Regions from separate parts of the Homo sapiens genome. Here region 2 is linked to region 1. The links come from fine-mapping of genetic effects on gene expression. A gene starts in region 1. The other region holds a variant in brackets. All regions are shown on one strand. Distances are from middle to middle.

The links.
Region 2: its variant is fine-mapped to the expression of MLYCD in anterior cingulate cortex (GTEx, PIP 0.97).

What each region holds. Positions count from the first base shown.
Region 1 is chr16:83,897,700-83,900,607 of GRCh38, reverse strand. MLYCD (malonyl-CoA decarboxylase) reads right to left here and starts at 1,493. Exons shown (of 5, transcript NM_012213.3): 1 at 936-1,493. The coding sequence starts at 1,463. RefSeq lists silencers at 824-993, 1,294-1,723.
Region 2 is chr16:83,935,859-83,938,766 of GRCh38, reverse strand. No RefSeq gene overlaps it. Among named protein-coding and RNA genes, the nearest start is that of OSGIN1, 16 kb to the left of the region's middle. The variant G/C (reference allele first, on the strand shown) is at 1,532.

The DNA.
Region 1 (2,908 bases):
CAAAAAAAAAAAAAAAAAAAAAAAATTAGCCGGGCATGGTGGCCTGCACCTGTAGTCCCAGCTACTCAGGAGGCTGAGGTGGGAAGATTGCTTGAGCCTGGGGAAGTCGAGGCTGCAGTGAGCCGTGATAACACCACTGTACTCCAGTCTGGGCAACAAAAATAAAAATAAAAAAAGGGCAGGTTAGTTTTTCGCCGTATTTAATACTAACAGTATAAAAGAAGAGTATATGTTGCTCTAGGCCTTCTTTCGGGTCATAATCATTTAAATCTCAAAGTATGTGTCTGCATTTAACATGAATGAACTGTGCTAATGCCTGATTACCTCAAGTCAACTCAGAATCATCACATTAAGTACTGAACGCAGGGAGTTAAATGCCCTCCCAAAAGTCATGGAGCACAGACAAGGCCAGAAGCCATGGAGACTCCTGGGTGGTGGTGGTGACCTTGAGTCCTATTTACCTTTGTGCATTTCACAGGACTTCTCAGGACAATGTCTCACACATAGCGGGTGCCCAGTGAACTTCTGAAACACCATCCAGGGTCTCAGAAGGCTGCCTGATGCTCTAGTTCAGGTATACCATATAGATGAAACACTTCTCAGCTACAATAATTTCAAAAGACTGTAGAGCACACACTAATCAGGTACGAGAGGTGACAGCTACCTTAAAGACCACCAAGTGCTGAGTATTTAGTAAACACTATACAAGTGAGGACTTCAAGGACAGACTGGAGGAAGGCGGGGGTGTGCTCTGACGAGGCCAGGACTCAGACAGCGTGGGAAGGGGACACAGTTGGCAGGCGGTAACTGCGGGCGAAGTGAGCGTGCTATCGGGCAGGGAAGGCGGGGTGTGTGGGACTTGGAGGGGGCAAGTGAGGACTACTCGAGGAGGGCGGCCAGTCCGCGCTGCCGGGGGATCGACGGCGGCCCCTTACCCGGACGTCCGGCCCCTCCACCAGCTTGAGGGCCTGCGCCTCCAGCAGGTCGGCCCGCAGCTGCACCAGGAAGCGCACGCCGCCGTCCAGCTTGCTGATGTGGTGGAAGAGGCCGCGATAGCGCGGCACCAGCGCGTAGCGCAGCCGGTCCTCGGCCTGCAGCAGCACCGCCGCCTCCCGCTGCTGCTGGCGCAGATGGAGCACGCCGGCGCTCTGCTCCGCCACCTGGCCGTGGTCCACGCCGAAGCCCCGCGCCAGGCGGCCCAGCAGTTCGGCCCGCTGGGCCGTCTCGGCCAGCCCACCGTAGAAGCTCACGAAGTCCGCGCACTGACCCTCGGCGGGCGCCGGTGTCTTCTCGCGCAGCTCGTAGGCCGGCGTCGGCGGCACCGCGCGGCGCAGCAGCTCGTCCATGGCCCGCTCCAGGGCGCCGGCCGCCTGCCCGCTCGCCAGCCGGGGCCCGGGCGGCCGCGGGGGCAACCGCAGCGGGAGGAGACGCCTGGCCGTCAAGCCTGGCCCGAAGCCTCGCATGGTGCCCCACAACAGCTGCCGAGGGGGAGCGCCGCCGCCGCTGCCGCGCTTCCGGCTTCCGGCGCGCGCCGGCCCCATTGGCCGAGGCCGCGAGCCCGGCTGGGGACGCGGCCAATAGGAGGGCGGGGCGGTGGGGGCGAGGCGGCGGGGGCGGAGCGGCTCTGGCGGCGGCCGGAGGCCAAGTGTGGCTAAAGGTTACTGCCCCGCGGCTGGGCTGCCTCGGGGCCTGCTCCCGCGCGGCTGGCGGCTTGTACTCCGGTCCTAACACCTGACCGCCTAAAGGCACCGGCCCAGCCCCTCCTCTCTTTCCCGACTGCACTGCACAAGTGCCGCCTCCTCTCTAGATCCGAGCGCCTCCAGCCTCCCGGTGCATCAGAGTCACCTGGGAACTCCTGCACCGGAGGATTCCTGGGCTCCGAAATCAGAATCCTAGAGATTCAGATTCAGTGTGTCTGGGAGGAGCCAAGGAATATGCTTGCTTAAGAGGTGTTTGTGGCAATCCTCTGGCATGGTAGGTAGCCTTTGTTTGACCCCTGCCTAGGCACTCACCATTCGCGTCAGTGTCTTACACACATGACGCTCAGAGCCACAGAGGTTGGAGGGGTGTGTGAGTGTGTGTGGAGAGAGAGAGAATATGTCTATATGTATGGATGTATGTACACATACGCACGCATATACACATACATATGTATGTAAAAGAGACATGGAGACAGAGAGACTGATGGAAAGCCATACCCTTGAGCAAATGCCAGAATGAGACAAAGAGTTTTCTTTGAAATAGTTTTCAGATAATTGCAGTTATCAAGGCATATTTATTTTGTCCTCTAGAAAGATAGGCCTGAACTCTAGTTCCCCCTCCTTCCCCAATCCATTACAATCTGTAGAAGAGAATGTCACATACCAGCCATGTCTCCCACATGCAAAATTGCAGGAGGCATTAGGAACACAGTGGGATTTTGTTCCACTCTGATGGAAATATGGCATCTTTGGTTGGAGGGTGAGGGAGCCATGTACTTGGTTGACTATGTCTAGGTGCTAGGATTTCTATAGGTAGAACCCTTTGGTGCAGGTCTTGCAGTATAAAAGACACCTGGAGGTAGTTCTGTATGAGGACAGCCTTTGCTGGGTGTGTCTCATCTTATGGGGCACGAAGAAAGTACGTTTGGCTCATTCTGCCAAGACACAGACACACAAAACATTCTGAAAGCCTAGTGGTGGCTTTTGAGGACACCTCTCCATTCCTCTTTTCTAAGAAGTGGTGAAACCATATTGCCAGCTGGCTAAGGGAGTTGGTGGGGTCCAAACTCTGGTGTTTGTCTCTTTGCCTTGTCGAGTGAGCTTTTGTCTGTCCTAGGATACTCCTGCCTTGCTTTAGGAATCTTGTCTTGAAAGCTTGACTTTGCTTAAGCATTTGCTAAGTGTAGTACTCCCACAACCCTGTTCTT
Region 2 (2,908 bases), 38 kb before region 1:
ACTCCTGGCCTAGGAATGTGTCAGAGATGAATCAATCAAAATGGAGCATCGTTTTCTTTGAGTAGATGTTATCACTATTCCAAAAAATTAAAAAGAGGTTCTAGTACATGGGGCTGACGTGGTCTATTACATAAGCAGGGCACCAGAGCCTCCTTGATGGATCATCCAGCTACCAGGTGGTCGCCTGGCTCAGTGCTGGCATGCAGGTCTGCCTCACGCAGAGGAACATGTTGACTGCACGTGTCATGTCTCCCTGAGAGCAGGTGTGGGCAGGCTGATCATTTTCTACTGGCTTCCCCCATCCATTTTCCACCTCCTCTGTCCTGCTCTGAGCTCCAGGAGGCTGAGCCCCAGGCTCTGCACCCTTACGCGCTTTGGCCAGCTGGCTTCTGGTTGCTTTTGATCAATGGGTGGCTGTGACAGAGTCCAGAGGGTGAGAGGAGTGGGTGGTCAGGACAGTGCTGTGTTGACAAATGTTTAACAACCAGTCTTGGGGCCGGGCGTGGTGGCTCACGCCTGTAATCCCAGCACTCTGGGAGGCTGAGGTGGGCGGATCACGAGGTCAGGAGTTTGAGACCAGCCTGGTCAACACGGTGAAACCCTGCCTCTGCTAAAAATACAAAAATTAGCCAGGTGTGGTGGCAGGCACCTGTAATCCCAGCTACTCAGGAGGCTGAGGCAGGAGAATCACTTGAATGTGAGAGGTGGAGGTTGCAGTGAGCCGAGATCATGCCATTGCACTCCAGCCTGGGTGACAGAGCGAGACTCCATGTCAAGAAAAAACAACCACCACCAACCACCAGCCTTGGGGGGCACTGTGGAAAGCCCTGTTTTGCAGTCCACCAATATCTGTGGCGTGAACACTCCCACCATGATCAATGTCACGTTACCAGTGTAATACTTCTGAACAGTGGAGTTGGAAAGAGATGTGCAGCTTTGCACTCTGCAGCACTACTGCTCCCTGGAACACACTTTGGGAACCATGGTTAGCAGCTGGCATAAATGCCGACTGTCACCCTTAAACTCCTGGAGACCAGGGACTTAAGGAGTTAGGGATAGTGGCTGGGGCTCAGAGGACTAGGAGGCCATGGGACAGCAGCATCTCCATCTTTTGGTTCTGGCTACCCATCGTAATCACCTGAGACCATCTCCAGAGATGATAATCCTGGATTTTTTAAATTCTCAAATGATTGCATTGTGTAGGCTGGGGAGAACCACTGCCTTAGAGCTAGGATCAGTGGGAGAGGCAAGAGGATGATGATCTTTCTATATTGCAATCTTGGGTCACATTAATAAGGGCATAGTCTACAGAATGTGGGAGGTGATGGTCCTGCTTGATTTGTCATTGATCAATGAAACCACGTTCTGAGCCCCACAGCTTAATGGAAACACCAAGTTGGAAAATGTTCAGAAAAGAGAAACCAGTAAAATGAGGAGACTCAAAACTTGGTCTTGAGGGGCTCAAACTAGGCCTGTGCTCCACAGAACTCCACAGATAGCGGCCATTCTGGGAAGCATGGGAGCCAGTTCA[G/C]GGCATGCCATCTGCCACACCGGCCCTAAGCTCTGTCAGTTGAGGACTCACCTTTGAAGCCACTCTGGTGCTTCTGTCTTCCCACTGAGGAGCAGGAGGGATTTCCTGAGGGTGGAAATGGCAGATGCTGGGTGGGGAGAGCCCAAGATGAGGGGGACCTAGGGGCAGCGCAACAAGGATTCACTTGGGTGACGACGACGATCAGTGATTCTCCAGGGTCATACGGGAAGACCAGCTAATCTCAGGCACGATCCCATGAGCTCATGAATATTTAAGAAGGAGGATGGAAAGGAGAAGGTCAGATGACAGCACCGGCCATGCTGGTAGCTGTGCCCAAGAACGCACACCCTGTGCCGGAGGTCAGGTCTGCCAAAGCTGGGACCGCGCTGTCCTCATTCTCTGTTTCATCCCTGGCCCAGACGGCACTCAGCGCATGCTCAGTACAGTTGCATTCAATGAATGAGTGAGCAGGAAGGCGAGACGGGGTCCTGATGCGGGGGGAAGATGGGCCACCAGGGCTGGCCTTTGTGAAGAGGGGGCTTTTCCACTGAGGCCCGAGGAGTGGGTGGGGAGCCGGCCACGGGAAGAGCACTCCAGGCAGAAAGAAGAGCACAGGCAGAGGCCTGGGGGCTGGCAGGGCCCTGTGGGTCTGAGGTCAGCAGTAGGACCCGAGGGTGTGGAGCTCTGGGGGTGAAGATGGCAATAGCGGAGAGGGGGACAGAGGGTTGACCCCACAGGGCCGAGAGGCAGTGGAGTCAGGAACCAGCCTCAGGGGCTGCTTCCCGGCTGTGTGGCTTGGGCCAGTGACTTAACCACTCTGGGTCTCAGTTTCCTCAGGGCAAAATGGAGAGGAAAACAGCAGCCATCTCCCGTGACTGAGAATGACGGGTGGCGCTGGGAATGGTGCCTGGCACACAGTAACCTCTGCAGCAATGGTCGCTGCCATTGTTATTATTACTGTTATTAGCAGCGGAGGAGCTGGGGAGACAGAGCTGGGTCTGGATGCTGGGTCAGCCTGCCTGGGTTCGGGGTCTTTTCCCCTGATTAGGAAGAGTCTGCAGCTGGCAGAGGTCCAGGGTTTCTGGGTGCTGCCCAGGCCCTTAATTGGGAGCTGTGTCTCTGACACTTCCACGTCCTGGAAGGAGGGCTCAGCGGGCCTGCCCGTCCCTGCAGGCTGGGTGCCCTGGCAGGCATGCTGCCTCCTGCTCTGGGTGGCAAGCAGCAGGCAAGCGGGCGGAGTGATGATGGGGCTGGGAGTCTTGCTGGGCTGCGAGGGCAATGGGGCTGTGTCCCAGGCGCTTAGGGACACGGTGTCCCTCTGTGTGAGCCACTCAGCTCTGGGAGGGCCGGGTGGGCTGGGTCCCACCTGGGTGGGTG